4 separate regions of the Homo sapiens genome follow, and all the other regions are linked to region 1. The links come from fine-mapping of genetic effects on gene expression. A gene starts in region 1. Each other region holds a variant in brackets. All regions are shown on one strand. Distances are from middle to middle. Region 1 holds the start of MFSD2A (MFSD2 lysolipid transporter A, lysophospholipid). Region 2 has its middle 6.0 kb from the start of MYCL. Region 3 has its middle 18 kb from the start of MYCL. Region 4 holds the start of HPCAL4 (hippocalcin like 4).

Evidence for each region. PIP is the estimated chance that this variant, and not a neighbour inherited with it, causes the effect.
Region 2: its variant is fine-mapped to the expression of MFSD2A in whole blood (TOPMed, PIP above 0.99).
Region 3: its variant is fine-mapped to the expression of MFSD2A in whole blood (INTERVAL, PIP 0.94).
Region 4: its variant is fine-mapped to the expression of MFSD2A in nucleus accumbens (GTEx, PIP 0.99).

What each region holds. Positions count from the first base shown.
Region 1 is chr1:39,952,788-39,958,343 of GRCh38, forward strand. MFSD2A (MFSD2 lysolipid transporter A, lysophospholipid) reads left to right here and starts at 2,358. Exons shown (of 14, transcript NM_032793.5): 1 at 2,358-2,598; 2 at 4,300-4,434. The coding sequence starts at 2,506. RefSeq lists a silencer at 2,180-2,309.
Region 2 is chr1:39,905,145-39,910,700 of GRCh38, forward strand. No RefSeq gene overlaps it. Among named protein-coding and RNA genes, the nearest start is that of MYCL, 6.0 kb to the left of the region's middle. The variant C/A (reference allele first, on the strand shown) is at 2,610.
Region 3 is chr1:39,917,350-39,922,905 of GRCh38, forward strand. No RefSeq gene overlaps it. Among named protein-coding and RNA genes, the nearest start is that of MYCL, 18 kb to the left of the region's middle. The variant T/C (reference allele first, on the strand shown) is at 2,354.
Region 4 is chr1:39,686,556-39,691,871 of GRCh38, forward strand. HPCAL4 (hippocalcin like 4) reads right to left here and starts at 4,878. Exons shown (of 4, transcript NM_016257.4): 1 at 4,751-4,878. RefSeq lists silencers at 3,154-3,380, 4,655-4,734, 4,955-5,184 and an enhancer at 5,257-5,316. The variant G/A (reference allele first, on the strand shown) is at 2,671.

The DNA of each region.
Region 1 (5,556 bases):
CCTGACTTGACCCCAACTCCGGTGAAAAGGATCTGAATGATTTAGTTGACCACAACCTGATGGGAACTAATCATGGGAGAGAAAGGCTCTGAAGCCCAGCAGTCTTAGGCTGCATTAACAATGTGTCGCATCCAGACTGGAAAAAATAATAGGCCTATTGTGCTGGCTTGGTCAGGCCATATCTGGAATCTTGCGTTGCTACACTGACAGACTGGAATCAGGCCAGGAGGGGGACCAGCCCAGCTTCAGCTCCCAGGCACTTGTGCTAAATGCTTCCTGTGCATTTTCTTGTTTCATCCCCAAAACAAATCTATTAGGTAGCTACTATTAATTTTTTTTTTTTTTTGAGACAAGAGTCTTTGTCTGTCACCCAGGCTGGAGTGCAGTGGCACGATCTCGGCTCACTGCAACCTCCGCCTCCTGGGTTCAAGCGATTCTTCTGCCTCAGCCTCCTGAGTACCTGGGACTACAGGTGTGCCCCACCACACCCGGCTTATTTTTGTATTTTTAGTTGAGACAGGGTTTCACCATATTGGCCAGGCTGGTCCGGAACTCCTGACTTCGTGATCCACCCACCTCAGCCTCCCAAAGTGCTGGGATTACAGGCGTGAGCCAGGGTGCCTGGCCAGTAGCTACTATTAATATCACCATTTTACACAGGGAGGTTAACTGAGTTGTTCAGAGTCAGCCGCACAGCTAGTAAATGGAGACACTTAGGGCTTTTCCTAATGGGTTTCTGTGTGCTTGTACCTTAGCAGGGGAAGACTGAACATTCATTCACTGAACACAATAATTCAGGCCCTAAGCTAGTTGGTGGGGACACAGAAGTGAAAAAGATGCGGTTCCTACCTGAGGAGCTCATTGTCAACCGGGGGATACAGATCACTTGTGGTATGGTGTGACTGTGGGAGAGAAGATTTGGGGGCTGCAAGGGAGCTTAGCTAACCAAGCCTGGAGAGGGGAAAAGAGACAGAACAGTGTCACACAGCTTGGAGTAATGGGGCCAGCCATTCCCTTTCCACAGTATTCAGTGCCTCACTTTGGCTCTCTTCTGCTCAGCAATGGCCAAGAGCTGTGTGCCCAGATGGGATCTGCTGGCGTATGAGGGAGCATGGTGTGACCATCCTGGGGCAGATAGACCTTATCTCTCCTCCCTGCAATCAGAGATTTAAAGAAAGGAAGAAGGAGGCTGACATTAAGGAGCACAGGAACCGGGTGGGTAGCCTTTGAGAGTTCCAGCAGCCCCTTCACTAATCAGAGAACTGGAAAGACCGGGGTGACATTGACATAAGGGACTCAGAGGTGGAACTAAAGACTGTTCTTTTCTGGCATCCGTGCCTGCCTTCTGTTCCAAACTAATGCCCTCCCATCTTCTTTTGAGGACCACATTTCTGGGCATTCTCTTTTTCAAAACTTTCCCTGTTTCAACCCTCAGTGCCTCTGGAGCCATGTATCTCCCAGGGCTTCTTGTTGGGAGACACATACACCCCATTCTGCCGTCTGTAATTTATGCTAAGAGGGATAGAGCAGGGCTGTTGAGAGCAACTGCTTTGGTATCGGACAAAACCTTTCAGGCCTGGCTCTGCTACATAACAGTTGCTTCACTTCTCCAAGTTTCCCCTTCCTGTGCTGTAAAATGGGGATAATAATAGTACCACCCTCACTTGGTGGTTTTTGAGGGCCGAAAGAGATCATATTAAGCATGGAGGAAGCTATCCATAAAAAGGCCACTGTTGTCATAGTGTACTAGCGGGCGTAGCCCCGGCTTCTCTCCACGACTTGGGAGCTCCCTTCTGGCAGGGGCAGCCACTGGATTGCCTCATCTTTCTCCCCATTGCCCGGATGCCAAGGGCAGGACGGGGGAATGGTGTGTCTTCGGGGATGAGAGAGAGGCATCAGGAGGGAAAGTGTCAGCGTACGTCCTCTAGGCTTGAAGAAGGAGAGAGGCCCTGACTCCAGATTTTAAAGTGGGCTTCAGAGCCCCTACCTTTCCTAGGCCTGGGGCTCAGAAGTCATGGGTGGTAGGCCCGACTCGGGGAGAGTCGGACCTTGGGGACCTCGGGGACCTCGGGCAGATCGGGGACCCCGGGCAGATCACTTTCAGCCTGGGGCCTCGGTTTCCTCGCGCGTGTCTGGGAGGTCTCGCGGCCTGCTTCTCGGATTGCTAGGAGCCAGCGCAGGCAGATGCCGGTTCCGGGGCTTGGAGAACGTGGCTCGGTGGCACAGAGCCGCCGGGCGAGGCGGGGGCAGGGAGGCGGGCGACGGGATTGGCTGGAGGCGGGGCAGCGGGGCTCGGGGATTGGCCGCAACCGAGAGGGCTGGGCAGAACTATAAGAGGCGCGGAGGGGGCGTGCAGCAGAGTGCGTTCCTCGTCTGCCAGCCGGCTTGGCTAGCGCGCGGCGGCCGTGGCTAAGGCTGCTACGAAGCGAGCTTGGGAGGAGCAGCGGCCTGCGGGGCAGAGGAGCATCCCGTCTACCAGGTCCCAAGCGGCGTGGCCCGCGGGTCATGGCCAAAGGAGAAGGCGCCGAGAGCGGCTCCGCGGCGGGGCTGCTACCCACCAGCATCCTCCAAAGCACTGAACGCCCGGCCCAGGTGAAGGTGAGGGCCCGGCACCCCGCGTGGAGGGCGAGGGGAGGGAGGAGGCGGAAATGGGGGATCAGGGGCGTCCCGGGGTCGGCCTGGTCAGGGGACCATTGGGATAGCCAGGGACAGGAAGCCTACGAGCCAGAGAGGACCTGGGGGTGCCCTGGGACAGGGGGTGACGGAGAAAAGCTGTGGGCGCCCTCGCCCCCCTTTGCTCACCCGCACTCCACGCTCTGCGGAGAGGCTCTGCCGGCAGCCCCATGTGATTCCCCGCTCTGCCTAGCCGGTTTCCATTCTTCCGTGTTGAGCGGCTGGGGCTTGCCGCCCCAAACCCCAGAGATGACCCCAGAAATCTGGGAAACTCCCCTTGGTTCCCCATCTCTCATCCCCTACCTCCCACTCCACCCACCTACTCTTGCGCCTCAACTCTGCTGTTAGGGCCGCTCAAGTTCATTCATAAGAACAAGAGCTCTGCTCTTAAAGGAGCCGCGTCCCTCAGGCATTTGTCTGAATGTGGATGTTCGCGCGGGAACGGTGCTTTGCGCATCGAGACCATCGACCACATCCCCAGCCCTGGGGACTTATTGAAGGACCAAATAAAATGAGGCGGCCCCCTAGGAAAGGATCTCAGGCAATAGATACCTTCGTGGGAGGTGACTGCCTTTTCCTTTTAATTTTATTAACTGATCTTTGGAAGGAGCTGGGTGAGCAATTATGCTGTTACTATGTATGAGTAATATCTACTTTCCCTGGGCAACCCAACCTCCCTAGTGCCCCACCCGGAGAGGGATCAGGCCTGAACCTGGAGGCCTTTCCTCCCGTCTCCAAGGTCCTCTAGGAGCTCAGGGGTGGAGGGCGATGGGTCGGGAAGCTGGAGAGTAGGACAGTTCCTGGGTCCGCCTGAAGCTCTGGCTGCCTATAGTGGTCAGGGATGCTCTGGGATAGGTGGAACAGCTGCGCCTGCAGCCAGCTGGGCCGGGCCCCCGTAGCTCTCTAGAGCTCTCACCAGGAGTAGGCAGGTGGATCCTGTCTCTGAGGCAGGGTGGGAGCCTGGGCTGGGCTCAGGCAGCTCTTGGCAGCAAGCGGATTTTCAGGTTGTGGCAGCTGGTGCCGGGTGGGGACAGGTCGGCTGCTGGAGCATGCTCCCCCTGAAACCTGGAAAGGAGCAGTGCCTGAGGCCTTGGGAGGAGTTCTTTAGGGATGGTGGGCTGATAAGTTTCCTTAGAATCTCCAGGAGGGAGGTGGCTTAGGGGCTACTTTCACACAAGTATGGATTCCCCTTTTCCATGTTCCTAAGAATGGAGAACACCTTTCTTTTGTATAAAGTGGGATCTCGGAGATCGAGACCATGCTGGCTAACATGGTGAAACCCCGTCTCTACTTAAAATACAAAAAATTAGCTGGGTGTGGTAGTGGGTGCCTGTAGTCCCAGCTACTTGGGAGGCTGAGGCAGGAGAATGGCGTGAACCCAGGAGGCGGAGCTTGCAGTGAGCCGAGATGGCACCACTGCACTCCAGCCTGGGCAACAGAGCAAGACTCTGTCTCAAAAAAAAAAAAAAAAAAAAAAAAAAAAAAGGTGGGATCTCCTGGATAGGAACAGGTCAAAGCAGAGTTGTTTGTTCTGGTAGAGCTGGCCAGAGGGATGGTCCTTCCTGTGGAACCTTCTTGGATGGAGGCCAGAACCTTGGGCCTTTCATCTTTTCCTCCTCTTCCCAGAAAGAACCGAAAAAGAAGAAACAACAGTTGTCTGTTTGCAACAAGCTTTGCTATGCACTTGGGGGAGCCCCCTACCAGGTGACGGGCTGTGCCCTGGGTTTCTTCCTTCAGATCTACCTATTGGATGTGGCTCAGGTGAGTGGTCTAAGCCTTCGAGGGCTCCTTCAGCATCCTGAGGTGGGAAAGACTATGCACCCCTGGGTCAGTTCGCTCAGTTTTCCCCATCTGTGAAATGGGACCCCAAATCACTACTTTGCTGCCTCTGAGTCAGTGAGCAAGAAATGAGAAGACCCTGGAAAGTATCCAGTAAAGGAGTGTCTCCACTCCAGGAGTCTTTGCTGGAAAGGTCTGGCAACTCCTCCTTGCCTGGCATGAGCAACAGAGCCTGAAGGGGTAGGCGGTAGAATGAGGGAGAATGGGGCCTGCTGGGGATGCTGTTCTTAGAAGAGACTGGCACACTGTGTTCCTGGCTGGGAGATAGTCAGCTGGCTTGACTCAGGGGTTGGTGGCTGTTGCCAGGCTTGTGGATGAGATGCATCCCACCTTTACCTGAGGAGCAGAAGGGCACTTAGGTGCCAGGCTAAGTTAGAATGCCCCAGTACACAGGGTCTTTGACTGGGAGGGGTACTTAGGGTGAAACAGGACTATTCTGTGCATTGAGAAGCCTTGGCCAGAAGCCTGGCATCCTGAGAATTCACCCTGTCTGGATGGGAGAGTGGGAGGCAGAATAGCCATGACTACCGGGGCTCCTGCACCAGCTGTCTTCTCTGTGTAGCATCTAACTTGGCAAGCATCGCATCTTAGTTGTATCCATTTACAGAGGGGGAACACTGAACTCCAGAAGGAACAAAAAACTTCAGCAGCTAATTTTTGAGTAACTCCCATGGGCTGGGCCTTGGGTGGGGTGTAAATATGAGGAACCTGCAGTCAAAGTGTAAACCTGTTGTAGTGGGTGTTAGAGCTGGGGTTGGGGGGTTAGACTAGGGAGACTATGGTATGGGGAAGAATACCCACTCCCCAGAGAAATAGCAATAGCAGGGCTTTGATGGATAAGGAGGAGTCTGGAGAGTCTGTATTTAGGGCCTGGGGGGTTTTGGGGCGGGGAGGGGGATAACTTGAGTGGGTAGTGACAAGTCCCTTTTTAAAAAGCATCTATAGGCTCCTTTTTCCACATCCAAGATAGAGCTTGAACCTGTAAGGTAGAGCTCATAACTCCCATTATACAGATGGGAACACTGAAGCACACTGTGTTCACCC
Region 2 (5,556 bases), 48 kb before region 1:
GGGGTCTCCCTATGCTGCCCAGGCTGGTCTCAAACTCCTGGGCCCAAGTGATCCTCTCACCTTGGCCTCTCAAAGTGCGGGGATTACATATGTGAGCCACCACATCTCACCTCTAATGCTTTAAAGTAGAGATATGCCAATTGTATTAGTTTGTTTTGACACTGCTGTAAAGAAACACCTGAGATTGAGTAATTTATAAACAAAAGAGGTTTAATTGACTCATAGTTCCGCATGGCTTGGGAGGCCTCAGGAAACTTACAATTATGGCAGAAGGGGAAGGAGAAGCAAGCATCTTCTTCACAAAGCAGCAGGAAAGGGTGTGAGTGCAGGAAAAACTGCCATTTATAAAACCATCGAGTCTCGTGAGAATTCACTCACTATCACAAGAACAGTATGGGGGAAACTGCCCCCATGATCCATCACCTCCTACCAGGTTTCTCTCTGGACACATGGGGATTACAATTCGAGATGAGATTTGGTTGCAGACGCAGAGCCAAACTATACCTTATAGAGACAGAAGAACTCTCAGGCCCAGTCTAGACTACAACCTGGTTAAAAGTATTAATGCAGCTAAAGAAAGAGGGTGCCAGTTAGGAGGGTCTGGGCAGCCAAGGAAGCCAGAGATCAGGGAGAGTTGCCAAGACAATCACCAGCAGTGTCCCTTCTCTGGGGACAAAGATGCTGGTCCAGGAAAAAGGGAGATGGAAGTACCATTCTTTGGAGCCACTCAATTCACCCCCTACCTCACTCATGCTCTGGATCACCAAGCAACCCTCTAAAAACCATTCTGTTTCCTATGTAGATCAGTCCACAGGGAGAGAATGCACTCATCATTGAACAGGAAGATCCAGTCTGCTTCAAAGCCCTGCTTCCTCTTATAAATTAATGAATTGGCATCTGATTTGCAATATCAGTCTCATGAACCTGGTTAATGTGTGTCTGTTCTGTAGAGATGCTGCTGCTTTTAGGGCTAACAACTCTGGTTTCTAAGCTGGACCCAGGATGCTGATGAATTTACCAAGGTAACAAATGCTACCCCAGGGACCTTCCATTTTTCTGCAATATTTTATTTCCTTTATTTTTTCTAAAATATGTTTTTAATCAAAATACATGTAATAATTTTTTAAAAAATCAATTAGGCATATGGCAAAGTTAAAAAAAAAAGGCCATCTTCTGTCTTGCCATCAACTGATTCCCACTCCCCAAAGGCAGCTATTGTTTTAGCTTTTTGTTTTTTGTTTTTGTTTTTGTTTTTTGAAACAAAGTCTCACTCTGTCGCCCCGGATGGAATGCAGTGATGTGATCTCAGCTCACATCACTGAGTGTGTGTGTGTGGTGTGTGCCACCATGCCCGGCTAATTTTTATATTTTTAGTAGAGACAGGGTTTCACCATGTTGGTCAGGCAGGTCTCAAACTCCTGACCTTGCGATCTGGCTGCCTCAGCCACCATGCCAGGACTGTCCCTCATATTTCTTTCCATATTTTGACCAATACAGAGATCTACTTTTTCCTGATTTTTAAATTTCTTTCTTTTTCTTTATTTTTTTGAGATGGAGTCTTGCTCTGTTGCCCAGGCTAGAGTGCAATGGCATGATCTCTGCTTACTGCAACCTCTACCTCCTGAGTTCAAGCAATTCTTCTGCCTCAGCCTCCTGAGTAGCTGAGACTACAGGTGTGCGCCACCATGCCTGGCTAATTTTTGTATTTTTAGTAGAGATGGGGTTTCACTATGTTGGCCAGGCTGGTCTCAAACTCCTGACTTCAGGTGATCCACCCACCTCAGCCTCCCAAAGTTCTGGGATTACAGGCGTGAGCCACCATGCCCGGCCCTTTTTCTTTTTCTTTTCTTTTTCTTTTTTTAAATTGCCCTTGCAGAGCAAGCCTAACTCATACTCATAGGTAGAGCTTCCAGAGCCAGCCTAAATTTCCTTTACTTTCTTTTTTTTTCTTTTTTCAAGACAAGGTCTCACTCTGTTGCCCAGGCTTGAGTGCAGTGGCACCATTTTGGCTCACTGTAGTCTCAGCCTCCTGGGCTCAAGCGATCCTCTTACCTCAGCCTCCCTAGTAGCTAGGACTGCAGGTGCACACCACCACACCTGGCTAATTAAAAATTTTTTTTTCTTTTCTTTTCTTTTTTTTTTTGTAGATACAGGGTCTGACTATGTTGCCCAGGCTGGTCTTGAACTCCTGGGCTCAGTGATCCTCCTGCCTGGGCCTCCCCAAATGCTGGCCTAAGCCACTGTACCCAGTTTATAATTCCTTTCTTATACAATATTTTTTTTCAGTGTTAAATTGCCTCAGTTTTTCTTTTGCTTAGATTTCTACATATCTATTATGAATTTAACCCTACACATTCCCACTAGAGCTACAAAGATTACTCCATATGGTCAAACACACTAGGTAATCAGTCTATCAGTTACATTTTTTTTCTAGGAATCATCTTGGTTGGAGTCCTTTGTCTTCCTGTTCTAGTCTGAACTTATTGATCTCTTGGCCTGCTTCACAATTGTCATCCTGTGACTTCCCTTTACCATCATCTTGGAAATTCCCTCTGCTTCTCTCCTGTGTCGCATCCCCTGTTTTCTGGAGCTTGTTTCTTCCTCTTTCT[C/A]GTTTTACTTCCTCACTTTGGTGGAGCATATCCTCCAGCAGCTGCTTTGAGAAAAGGTACTTGGGAAGTAAAAGTTTTGAGACTTTGTGTTTCTGAAATTTTCTTTGGTATACCCTTTGGTTGATGGTTTGGCTGGCTAGAGAATATTAGATTAGAAAATAATTTCCCCTGAGAATTCTAAAAGTACTTTTTTTCTGTTTCTTAGCAGCCAGTATTGCTATTGAGAAGACTGATGTCATTTTATCTACAAACCTTTGTATGTGACCTGTTTCTCTGGTAGCTTTTAGGATATATTCTTTGTCCCTGGCATTTTAAATGTTTTCAATGATGTGCCTTGGTGTGGGTCTGTTGGAATAAAGAATTTATTGGCCTTTCTCCCCAGTTCCTTGGAGGTAACCTCTAAATCCTTGGAATTTCCCAGGTAATAGGTGTGTCTGTTATTTATGGCAGGCACTGATAGCTTATGCTAATAAGGTGGCCCATGGGGGACCCCTAGATAGTTTAAGATGACTCATGATAGGGGCTGTCCATGCCAGAAAGACAAACCATGTGATTAGAGTGCTGGGCTTTTGAGCCACTTGATAATCAATCTGACCTCTGGGCAGGGGAAGAGGGCTGGAGATTTAGTTAAATAATCTGGACAATGATTCAGTTAATCGTGCCTACATAATGAACCCTCAATAAAAACTCTGGACACTGAAGCTCTGGTGAGCTTTTCTGGTTAATAATAGTCTGTGTGTATTGTTACACATCAATGTGCCAGAGGATGATGCATCCTGACTTCACGGGAAAAGGACACTGGAAGCTTTAAGTTTGGGATCCTCCAAGACCTTGCCTTTTGTGTCTCTTCTTTTGCCTGGTCCTGATTTGTATTGCCTTTGCTATAATAAAACTGTAACTATAAGTTTAGTGCTTTCCTGAGTTTGGTGTTCTGTGGAATTATTGAACCTAAGTAGGTAGTGGGAACCCCCAGATTTGTAGTCATTTGGTCAGAAGTGTGGGTGGCCTGGGAAACCCTGAGCTTCTATTAATAGCTGGTTTCTGAAGTGAAGGCAGTCTTGTGGAGACTGTGCCATTAACTTGTGAAGTTTGGCCTAACTCTAGATAGTGTCAGAATTGCATTGCAGCATCTTTTTGAATTCTTTGCGCTAAGCCTTTTTATTTATTTATTTATTTATTTTATTTTTATTTTTTTTAGATGGAGTCTCGCTCGTCTCCCAGGCTGGAGTGCAGTGGCGCAATCTTGGCTCACTGCAAGCTCTGCCACCTGGGTTCACGCCATTCTCCTGCCTCAGCCTTCCGAGTAGCTGGGACTACAGGTGCCCATCACCACGCCCGGCTAACTTTTTGTATTTTTAGTAGAGACGGGGTTTCACCATGTTAGCCAGGATGGTCTCGATCTTCTGACCTCGTGATCTGCCTGCCTCAGCCTCCCAAAGTGTTGGGATTACAGGCGTGATCCACTATGCCCTGCTATTTATTTTTTTTAAATTGAGACGGAGTCTTGCTCTGTCACCCAGGCTGGAGTGCAGTGGCACAATCTCAGCTCACTGCAACCTCTACCTCCTGGGTTCAAGCAGTTGTCCCACCTCAGCCTCCCAAGTACCTGGGATTACAGGTGCCCATCATCATGCCTGGCTAATTTTGTTATTTTTAGTAGCGATGGAGTGTCCCCATATTGGGCAGGCTGGTCTTGAACTCCTGACTTCAAGTGATCTGCCTGCCTTGACCTCCCAAAGTGCTGGGATTACAGGCAGGCGCCACCACACCCAGCTGCCCTAAATCTTTTAATATGGAAACCAATTCACTCTGTAATTATTCCTTTGGGAAATTCCTCCCCTCCATTTTTTTTCCCTTCTCCCTCTCTGAAACTCCTGTCTTGTCTTTTCTTTTCTCTCATCTCTACCTTTATGTGTTCTGTTCAACTTCCTAGGAGTCAAACTTCTAATCCTTTTTTTTTTCTAAAATAAAAATAGAGATAGGGTTTCCCTATATTTGCTAGGCTGGTCTCAAACTCCTGAGCTAAGCAATCCACCTGCCTCAGCCTCCCAAAGTGCTGGGATTATAGGTGGATTATTAGTGTGAGCCACCACACCCAGCCAAACGTCCAATCCTTTTATTCATGTTCTCAACTTCCAATCCTTTTCTCAACTTAAACATTTTTTGACTGATATTTTTTAATTTTTAAGACCTCTTTTTCTTGTTGTTCCCTAAATGTTCCCTTTTTGGAGCTTCCTGTTCTTTTTCCATGGACACAATCTTTTTCCCATTTTCCTCTGAGGCTATTAATAATAGTTTTCATACTTATTATAAATTTTGAAAGTCTTTCCTGCTCCCTGTTTTCTCTGACTTCTCCCTTGCTTACTTTGCTCTGTGTGTTTCATTAGAGGCTTTCTCAAACATCCGATAATCCTTGGTATAGATGTTTATGTATATTACAGAGTAGAGCCAGGCATGGTGGTGTGCATATGTAATCCCTTGGGAGACTGAGGCAGGAGGATTGCTTGGGCCCAGGAGTTCAAGATCAGCCTGGGCAATATAGTGAGACCACATGTTAAAGAAAACAAAACAAAACAGTGAGGCATTAAAAGCTGATTGAAAGCTCTATATGTGTGTGTGGGGAGGTATTTGATTACTGAGCTTCACTAAAGGGTTTTAGGCAGGTACCTAGCAGGGGACTCCTCAACTGTCAGTATGAGTACATCTTTCTTTTTCTTTTTTTTCTTTTCTTCTTTTCTTTTCCTTTCTTTTCTTTTCTTTTCTTTTTTCTTCTTTTCTTTTCTCTTCTTTTCTTTTCTGGGACAGAGTTTCACTCTTGTCACCCAGGCTGTAGTGCAATGGTGCAATCTCGGCTCACTGCAACCTCCGCTTTCCGGGTTCAAGCTATTCTCCTGCCTCAGCCTCCCAAGTACCTGGGGATTACAGGCGCCTGCCACCATGCCCAGCT
Region 3 (5,556 bases), 35 kb before region 1:
CTTTCTTTCTCTTTCTCTCTCTTCCTTTATTTCTTTCTTTTCCTTCCTTTGATGGAGTCTCGCCAGGCTACGGTTCAGTGGCACGATCTTGGCTCACTGCAATCTGCACCTCCGAGGTTCAAGCGATTCTCCTGCTTCAGCCTCCCAAGTAGCTGGGATCACAGGCATGAGCCGCCATGCCCAGCTAATTTTTGTATTTTTAGTAATGATGGGGTTTCTCCTTGTTGACCAGAATGGTCTCGATCTCCTGACCTCGTGATCCGCCCACCTTGGCCTCCCAAAGTGCTGGGATTACAGGCGTGAACCACTGTGCCCGGCCAACAATTCTTATTTTCATTAGGCAGATTCCTGATCCAGGTTGTCTGAGAGGGCTTTCTGGAGGAGGGAAATTTGATCTGATCCATAAGATGTCTAGGATTTTAGTGGAAGTAAGGAGGTGAAGAGGGGAGAGGAGGAGAAAAAAGATTTAGGGAGGGGAGAGTTAGGAAGAGGAAGGGCTCTGGAGCTGGCCCCAGAAGAATTAACCAGGTGTAAAATCTGGTTTCTTATCCTATATCTGTGGCTCTGTTACCTTGGCTTGGGTTTCACTGCAAAGCTGTGCTTTCCTTAGAACCCTAAGGAATGTGGCCTTGCTTTAAGTTCAGTGAAAAAGGGGTTCAGGAGATCTTGTGTCTCCCTCTGCAGCCAACCTGGGGAAGGGACCAGGCTTAGAGAGAAAACAGCAGCTTTCAAGAACAGGCCAGGAGTGGTGGCTCCCGCCTGTAATCCCAGCACTTTGGGAGGTTGAGACAGGCAGATTACCTGAGGTCAGGAGTTCCAAGACCAGCCTGGCCAACATGATGAAACCCGTCTCTACTAAAAATACAAAAATTAGCCGGGTGTGGTGGCGGGCACCTGTAGTCCCAGCTACTCGGGAGGCTGAGGCAGGAGAATTGCTTGAATCTGGGAGGCAAAGGTTGCAGTGAGCCGAGATCACGCCATTGCACTCCAGCCTGGGTGAGAAGAACAAAACTCCATCTCAAAAAAATAAAAAAAAAAAAATAAACAGAAGTAGGATGAAGGAAAAACTACTCTGAAGCAGTGTTACGGTGAGCAGGCTTGTACTGACCCTTAGTTTTCTCATCTCTAGAGAGGTTTTTTCCTATCTAGCAGCATTATTGGAGAATTAAATTAAACTGCAAAGTTTTAGCACAGTGCCTGGCACAGAGGAGAATTCCAAAAATGTCAGTTTTCTTCTCTTCTTCTTTTTGTTTTTTTAATTTTGAGACAGAGTCTCGCTCTGTTGCCAGGCTGGAATGCAGTGGTGCGATCTTGGCTCACTGCAACCTCCGCCTCCCAGGTTCAAGGGATTCTCCTGCCTCAGCCTCCCAAGTACCTGGGACTACAGGCATATGCAACCATGCCCAGCTACTTTTTATATTTTTAGTAGAGATGGGGTTTCACCATGTTGGCCAGGATGGTCTTGATCGCCTGACCTCGTGATCTGCCCACCTCGGCCTCCCAAAGTGCTGGAATTACAGTTGTGAGCTGCCGCACCTGGCCTGGACATTTAAGGTAAACAATCTGGGTAAGGTCCCAATCAAGGCCCTCAAAGCCTGGCTAAGGAACTTGTACTAAAGCTGAAAGCATTGGAGAATCATAGGAGGCTTGTGAACGGAAGAGTGACAGATATATCTGTGCTTTGGAAAGATCACTTCTGGGAGAAAAGAGTCCTGGTGTAATGCAGGATGCAGCATCCTGAGCCCCAGATCTGCATCTAACAGACTCCATGGTTTCATCTTTGCCCAACACATGAATGGCCTCCATCAGTGTTTCCCCAGTGGGCTATGAATTGTGTGAGAGCTTGATTCCTAACACAAACTGAATCTTCCAGTTTACCTTCTCAGAGATAGAGCTAATTAATTGCAGGGGTCAGGGTCAGGCGGGGTATTCCCCAAACCTGAAGGGCTAATATAGCCAGCCTGAGCTGCCACACAGAGGATGAGATGGGATTTCTGAGCAGCTCTGGAGATTGTGATAATGACTAAAGCCCAAGGAGGCCCTCCTGGCACTCCCCCTCACGGGGACATAATACTAAGTGACTTGTGCTTGAGGGCAATTGTGAGACTGTTATGTACCCTTTTTAAGGTACTTTTTTTTTTTTTTTGAAGTGAAAGCAAGTTTATCAAGAAGGCAAAGAAATAAAAGAATGGCTATTCCATAGGCAGAGCAGCCCCTTAAGGTCTTAAGGAGGATTGATGACAAACTTCCTCCGCACCCTTCTTAAGGTGCTGAGCTCTGGGCACAGGTGGAGCAAGATAATCACCTGGAAATAACAATTCTGTCCACTAGAGGGAAACCCAGTCTAGAGAGA[T/C]GGGGAGGGAAACCCAGGCTAGAGAGATGGGGAGGGAAACCCAGGCTAGATGCGTGGGAGCCCTGAGGCTGGAGGAAACAGAAGGAGCTGACGGCCCCAGGAGCCAGTGGACCCAGTGATCTAGGTTCAGTGCTGTGCTGGAACTGGCTTGTATCAGCTTAGTGAGAATTGACTCTTGCATTTTCAGGAATCTTGAGAGCTGGTTGGTAAACTTGGTCATTAAATATTAAATTATAGCTGGGCACGGTGGCTCACACCTGTAATCCCAGCAATTTGGGACGCCCAGGTGGGAGAATCGCTTAAGCCCAGTGCGAGACCATCCTAAGCAACATAGGGAGACCCTTGTCTCTACAAAAAAATCAAAAAATTAGCCAGGCATGGTGGTGTGCACCTCTAGTCCCGGCTACTCAGAAGGCTGAGATGGGAGCATCACTTGAGTCTGAAAGGTCCACGCTGCAGTGAGCTATGATTGCACCACTGCACTCTAGCCTGGGAGACAGAGCAAGACCATGTCTCAAATTTAAAAAAGAGAGAGAAAAAAAAAAAAAAAGGCCAGGCATGGTGGCTCACGCCTGTAATCCCAGCACTTTGGGAGGCCAAGGCGGGCGGATCACGAGGTCGGGAGATTGAGACCATCCTGGCTTACGCGGTGAAACCCCATCTCTACTAAAAATGTAAAAAGTTAGCCGAGTGTGGTGGCAGGCGCCTGTAGTCCCAGCTACTCGGGAGGCTGAGGCAGGAGAATGGTGTGAACCTGGGAGGCGGAGGTTGCAGTGAGCTGAGATCATGCCACTGCACTCCAGCCTGGGCAACAGAGCAAGACTCCGTCTCAAAAAAAAATAAATAAAAAATAAAATTAAAATTAAAAAATAAAAATTATAATGTGTCATGGAATTAGGGCACAAAATTAATAAAGTAAAAATTAAACTATATAAATTTACATTTAAATAAACTATATTGGCTGGGCATGGTGGCTCACACATATAATCTCAGCACTTTGGGAGGTCAAGGTGGGCAGATGACTTGAGCCCAGGAGTTTGAGACCCACCTGGGCAACAGGGTGAAACCCCATCTCTACAAAAAATACAAAAATCAGCTGGGCATAGTGGTGAGCGCCTGTAGTCCCAGCTACTTGGGAAGCTGAGGTGGAAGGATCACTTTAGCTTGAGAGATCGAGGCTGCGGTGAGCTGTGATTGCGCCACTGCGCTCCAGCCTAGTGATGGAATGAGCCCTTGTCTCAAAAATAAATAAATAAAATAAAAATCAATCCCTAATTATTTTATTATGTTTTACTATTATCTGCCTATCATATCAGTTATGGTGAAAGTACTATGTAGTGGTTTGCTACTGTCCAACTTCAACTTTGATTTTTTGTTTTGTTTTGTTTTGTTTTGTTTTGTTTTGAGATGGAGTTTCATTCTTGTTGCCCAGGCTGGAGTGCAATGGCGCGATCTTGGCTCACTGCAACCTGTGCTTCCTGGGTTCAAGTGATTCTCCTGCCTCAGCCTCCCAAGTAGCTGGGATTACAGGTGCCTGCTGCCACACCTGGCTAATTTTGTATTTTTTTAGTAGAGACGAGGTTTCACCATGTTGGCCAGGCTGGTCTCAGACTCCTGAGCTCAAGTGATCCACCCGCCTCAGCCTCCCAAAGTGCTTGGATTACGGGCGTGAGCCACTGTGCCCGGCCCAACTTCAACTTTGGTAGCTTGCAGTTGGTCATGGCAGATTATTTACTTCATGGAAACCCACAAATGCTACAAATCAGGGTTCCCCACCTCCTGCCGCCCACCTTCCAGTTTGTTAAACATTTGCCAGGCTATCGCTGCTTAGGCATCCCCACATCAGGTGTTATGGGGAGGACATGGAATTTTCCAGAGGTCTTGCTGACACAGACACACTCAGAGATATCCCTGTGGAGGGAGCACCCCATTTCAGCTGGTAGAAGTTGTTGGGGGCATCATGGGAGCATTGTTGTGTTGTTGCAGGAACGTGACCTGGAAGTTCCCACCCTGACTCCAGCTTTGCGCAACTGTTCCATCCACCGGAAATTGGTCTATACTTAAGTGCTCAGGCATCCCTTTCTGTCTGCCTAGCAACGAAGTAAGGTTGGTGATCATCCAGTGCTAGAACGATCATCCCCCATCAGAAAGGAAGCTTTATGAAGGGCAGGGAAGCCCCCACCTCGGTTCATATCCTCAGGCCTGGCTCAAGTCCCTGGGCCTAAGTATTGGAGCCGCCACACAGAAAACCCAGGAACAAGCAAGACACTGGAGTTAGGCACATCTAGGCTGCGCCACCCCTAACTGTGTGACCTGAGAAAGGCACCTAAACCAAACTGGTCTTGTCTCCTAACCTGTCAAATAGGGAGATTCCTGCTTATCATGCCTGACCGTGGTGAAGATTAAATAGGATCATCCATGCAAAACTCTCAGCTGGGCGTTTCCATCACCTAGAAGGTGTTCCATGATGTCAAAGCTATTATTGTTTTCATACTTGGGATGGGGAGTGCCGAATTCAAATCGGTTCTGAGTGCGGGTCTACTCTGACACCCTGTGTGTCAGAAGGAGGGGCGGGACTAGGAGGCAACAAATCCATTACAGCACAGTTGGCAGATGTGTCCAGTCACACAGCCGGGAAGTGGACCAGGGACTGGACAGCAGCCCTCCGCCCAGGACTCGGCCAGATGTTCCAAGCCTAGCAAGGGGCGCTTCTACCCCCACCCATCCTCCCCGACAACCTAGGCCTGTGGCTTGGAGGAGGCAGAGGTGGGGGTCGGCAGCCGGACGTCGCAGGCCCCAGGCTGCGCGCAGGAAGCGGCTCCAAGGTTGTCCTAGAGCCTCAAAGCGGCGGAAGGGAGGGAGCAGCCGGCACCTGCATTGTGCGAGCCCCGCTCCCCGCTGAGCTTCTGTGACCTCTGGCTCGCGCTCTTGGCATCCGCTGCTGGGGCAGGGCCCGCGGCTTTCAGACAGGTATTAACCGGGCAGAGGATACTAGATCTGCGCTGGCTTTCATTCATTCACGCATCCACTCATTCGTGCATCCATCAGTTATCGAGCTGCGGCAGGAGTTAGTGCACAAAAACATAGTCCATGATCGCAGGGACCATACTCCTGCTAAATCATGGAGGTTTGGGGAGTTCCTTCAGACTCTCAGTAAACTTATTCGTGGAGGTCTGATTTTTTTTTTTTTTTTTTTTTTTGAG
Region 4 (5,316 bases), 270 kb before region 1:
AAGAGGAACAGAGGAGTTGAGGCAGAGGCTCAGATTTGAGCCTCAGTGGATAGAAGTGTTGTTGCTGAGAAGCAGGTTTGGGAAGGATCAAGAGTTATTCCCCAGTGGGAATGTGAGCCCGTAAGTGGGCTGTGCCAGGGGAAGTGTTTGAAGAGGTACAGGCCCTCCTCAGGAAGTGTGGCCAGACCTTGAAGGCAGAGTGGACCCTCCTCTCTGACCTCCCTGGGAGGAATGTCCCTGCAGAGTCTGGGTTTCCCAGGACATGGCTTGGGAGGTGCCTCTGACCTGCCTAGAGTCTCTTTGGAAGAGGGTCAGGCTCCCACCCCAGGTAGCCTGTCCTCAAGATACTCTGGAAAAGGAAGCCCTTGGGCTGGCAGAAGGAATTCCACTCCCATAGCCCGATGTCTGCCAGTGGGCTTCTAATTCTTACAACTGGGAAAACACTAAATAGCAAATCTGAGGTTGGTCCATTCCTTCCCACTCCCCTTTGCTGGGCTGACCTCAGGCTAGTTACAGATCCTCTCTGGGCCTCAGATTCCTCCACTGGGCCATAAGGAAGACCAAGGAGCAGTGCAGGTAGCAACATCCTTCCCCACTCCCAGAGGATGAGGAATTGTATGCCCTCAGGAAAAGCCAGGGAGGGGGAGCATGCCATCTTCAGGAACCTGAGGCTGGGCGGAAAATGGCTACACTGAGGCCAGAGCAAGGATGCCTCTGGAACACCCATAGGCAAAAGGAGGCAGGCCTCACCCCTCTCCCAAATCCAAAGGACTCTCAAGGCTCAGGGTATAGTCAAGGAAGCTGGAGAAGTCAGGCAGAGATGTCTGATGGGGGGAGGCACAGCCTCTCCAGCTGTCTTCCGTAGGATGTGCCTGAGAGTCAGCATGAGGGGCTGGGTCTGTGTGTGGGAGCATGTCAATGTCTGAGGCTGCAAATCTGTCAGAGTGCACACGTCTCTCTGTGTGTGTCACAGTGTCTGTGTGGCTCTCACCTTATACCCCTTTTCTCCTCCCTGCTCTGTGCTGCCTTCTCCACAATTCTCTGTCTCCTAGGGTCCTTCCTGTTCCCTGCTTTTATTGGGTCTCAGACCCAGACTATGCCTCCTCCTTTATTTCTCCTCATTCCCTCTAGATCATCAGAAGGTCAAAGCTGAGCCTGGGCAAGATAAGGAAACCCTGTTTCTACATAAAATTTAAAAATTAGCCAGACATGGTAGCATGTGCCTGTAGTCCCAGCTGCTCAGAAGCTGAGGTGGGAGGATCACTTGAGCCCAGGAGGTTGAGGCTGCAGTGAGCCGTGATTGAGCCACTGCACTCGAGCCTGGGCAACAGAGCAAGACCCTGTCTCAAAAAAAAAATAAGTAAATAAAAAATTAAGAAAAGAAGGTCAAAACTGGCCGTGCCCTTTAAGATCATCCCCTTATTTCAGTGAAAATGGAAATTGAGAGATAGGAGAAAACTGGCTCAGGGTTACACAGCAGGTCAGTGGGAGGGCCCAGATGAGCACTCAGGCTGAATCCGTGCTACCTGCCTGGGCCACCGTCTCCAAATCATGGCTACTCTTGTTCAGCACAGACCTTCTCCACCCACATCTGCCCTCTGGGAAAATCAGAGCTCTGATCTCCCTTTTGGCCGCAGTGGAACCATCTGGGGCCACAATCTCTGACACCCAGGAGATAGCCACCCTAGGGGTGTCCACCAGCACCTCTGAGACAGCAAGTCTACAGCCAGACTCGCTCCCAACCAGAGATGGTCAGACTGTCTCTGTTGCCCCTTCCTTCTCTCCCTCATCCCCGGGGTGTGGGGAACACAATCTTAGTTACCTTCATTTTTTCCCTTCCCTTTGCCCTAGGTCTAACTTGCCATCAAGTCCTGTTGTCTCTTATTTTGAAATGCTCTTGGTACCTTCATTATGTCCATAGCCAGGGACACAGCCGAGGGGGCTGAAATCAAGCTATGCTCATGCCCATGGGGCTTCCCTGCCTGGCAGGAAGTGCCTTTCTTTTGATTCCTCTGTTAGGAGGGAATGGCTTTTTCCCCCCGAAAGTTACAATATAGACTAGAAGTAGCCATGCCCATGGGCCCCCTGAAACTCTAGAATCCTCTAGAATCTGGTCTCAAAGTGCCCACCTATCTCGCCTCAGCTCTCATTGCTCACTCACCACCGCATACTCCTCTCAAGCCAGCCTTCTCACAGCCAGACACGCCTCACCTCTTTGCTAAGCTATTTTCCTCTCCCCTAATATCCTTTCTTCTCTCCTGGACTATAATCAGTCTTCAGGGCCTGGTTGAAGCCTGCTTCCTTATGATCAGCCTTTTCCAGTCTGGACAGTGGAGAGTCAGCAGCCCAAGCTCAGCACTTTGGGCATGAGTCAGTCCCCCACAGGCGTGTAGACTTCATAGCCCTCTGACCCTCACCTGGTGCTGTAGAATTCCAGGATGCAGTCTGATTTGAGACAGGTCTTTGCATTAAACCCCTGCCTGAGTCAGAAAAAAAATCCTCCAGACCTTTTTGCTCAATGGCAAGGAGTTGATCCCCTCCAATATGCCCCAGTCCACTTTTGAGCAGGTTGAAGCGTGAGAAAAGTTTATTTTTCCCATGGGGAAAATAAAAGTGCTTTTCCCTATGCACTCACTTCTCCCAGTGAGTGCTTAGTCCTCACTGAGTCTG[G/A]GACCCATGAGAGCAGGGGTTTTTTCTCTCTTATAGCTCCCCTACCCTGGTTCCCACCCTGCCTTCTGTGCCTGCACAGAACTGCTCTGTGGAGACGCAGTGGCAATGCCTAGGACACAGTGATGTTCAATGAATGTCTCTTGGTGGATTACGTAAGAGGAGCAGAACCCCCTTCTTCCTCCCTGGATCTATGTCAGGCTGTTTTGTTTATCTGTGTTCTCCTGCTATCACACCCACTTCAGAGACAATGGAACCCAGACCTAGGGGAAGGAAGGGTTCACCCCAGGTCAACTATAGCCCATCAGCAGCAAAGTGAAGGCCAGAACCCAGCTGGGGACATGCTCTGCTGGAGCTGTGGCCCTGCTGAACATGGGCAGGCTCCTCTGCTTACCTCTTGAGGGCTGTCCTCCAGCTATGAAGGAGCTGGGACTGTCCCATACACAAAACCATTGTCCCAGTGTGCCCAGAGGTTTCTTCAAGAGGGCTAAGGGCTGTGGGCTTTGAATGGAGAGGTGGCTGAGGCTTTGAATGGGAGGGACTGAAGGAGGCAATAATCCCACACCCTCACCCAGCTTCAGAGGAGCTGGTACTGAGGTGGTTGCCATGGTGACAATAGCTCCCTGGTCAGGAGATTTTTTCTCTCTTTCCTCTCCTCCCTTTGCTCTTCCCCAAGCAGCAGCAATAGCAGCAGCAACCAGGTCTTTTCCCTCTTCTTCTTAATGAGAGGCAGGGGATGACAAACAAAGAGTAATCCCAGCTGGCCACCTACAATTTGGAGCTGTCCATGTCAGGATGGGCTGGTGGTCTAGGAGGGACTCCTAATAGAAGGGGCCTGGAGAATGTGTGGGAGGAGGTAGCCTGTACCTAGGCTGGTTAAGAAGGAATGTGTCTTCAGTGAGTTCTAAACCAACCCCGCCCCCCTCAGGTCTCCTCTCTTTAATGTCCTCTTGGTTCAGGATCCTGTTTTTCCATAATCAGCCATAGAACCAGAGTGTCTCAGTGCCAGAAGGCTGTTCAAGTTCATCTCACCCAGTCTACCCTCTCTGTTATACCTCTCCCCATTTTCATGAAGGATCAGAGAGGGGAGTGACTTGGCCAAAGTCAAACTTTGGCTGTACAAGATTTGAACCCAGCTCATCTGCCCTCCAGGTATAGTTCACTTTAGGGCCAAGAGCAATACAGCCCACATGGCACCTTGGCAAGGTCCCCACGGAGCAGCAGGAAGGTGGGAGAGAGGGAGCAAATAGTCATACAAATTAGAAAGACATTTGACAGGCAGAATGAGAGGATTTGGTGCCTGGCTGTGAGGGGGGAGGGAGGAGGTATGGAGGTTGGGGCCTTGGCAGCAACTGGACTGACGGTATGGGTGGTCTGCTGGGGGTGGTGTCTTTGGTTCATCCTCCCGCCAGGATGAGAGATGCCAAATATGGGGCCTCTGCCTAGCACTGGGGGCCACTGGGGAGGGCTGTCGAGACTGTGAGGAGAAAAACTGGGGAAGGGGGATTGTCCCCCCCTCAGGTATGCTGTGGGCTCTGTCAGCTTGAGGGGTGGGATGTGGGGACAGTGTCTGGGGACAACAAGGAGGGAGCGCTCTGTGGAGGGGGAGGCTGTCTTTGGGGGCAGGGGCTCCCTGATGAGAAGTGGCTAGGGGCTATCCGTGGAGGTGGGAGTTTGCCATGGTGCTGGGCAGACAACCCATATCCAAACAGGAGGGAGGGTGACCAGCGCCTCCAGCTAGCACCAGCGCCACCACACCCCCAGATGTGTGTGTGTGCATCTGTGTGTGTATGTGTGTTTGCGCGCGTGTATGTTGGGGGCCATAGCAATGGTTGTTCTCACCTGAGCTGGGGATAAGTAGGCGGCTCTGCCTCCTTCTCTGCACCCATGGGCCTGGACTGAGGTGGGGGGTCTCCTGCCCAGGGGTGGGCTCTTCAGTTGCTGCCGCCTAAGGCGGAACCACGGGTCAGGGAGGTGAATCAGGGCAGGACATGAGGATGGGAAGGGAGAGTGGAGGGGGAGGGGGCCAGGGCCTCCGCCCGGTGGGTTTGTTGCCTTGAGGACCCGGTCCCACTCGCATTACCTGAGGCCGGTCGCCGGGTCGCTGGATGGCTCCGAGCCTCGGCGGGCCGCGGGAACCGAGGCTGGCTCGCGGGCCGGCAGCTGTGCTCTCCAAGGTCTGCGCCGGAGCCGCCTTCCAGCTCTTGTATCACTATGTGCCTCCCGAAGGCGACACTATTTGCATAAGCCCCGCCCCATCCCGGGCAGGTTGCACGGCTATTGGCTCCTCTGGAGCGGAGTGGCAGGCGGGGTTTCAGGTGGGGACCGGGTGGCCGGCGAGGCCCGGCCGCAGGAGCGCGCCCCGCCTGCCCGCGCTGACCTTCCCGGAGTCGCCGGGAAGCGGGAGGGCTGCACCCCCATCTGCACCCCTGCCCTGAGGCTCAGCCCCCGGCTTACAAGTCTGGGGTGGAAAGGGTCGACGATGAAAGTGGATTCTCAAAAACAACCTCACCGTTGCTATGGAAACGGGAGAACCACAGCCGAATCTCTAAGCTTCCTTTCCTGGGCCCCAGCATGGGTGGGGGCGGAAGAGGGGATGAGTCACAAGATGAGACCCCCCCCCACACCCATATCCCACCCGAAATTGGG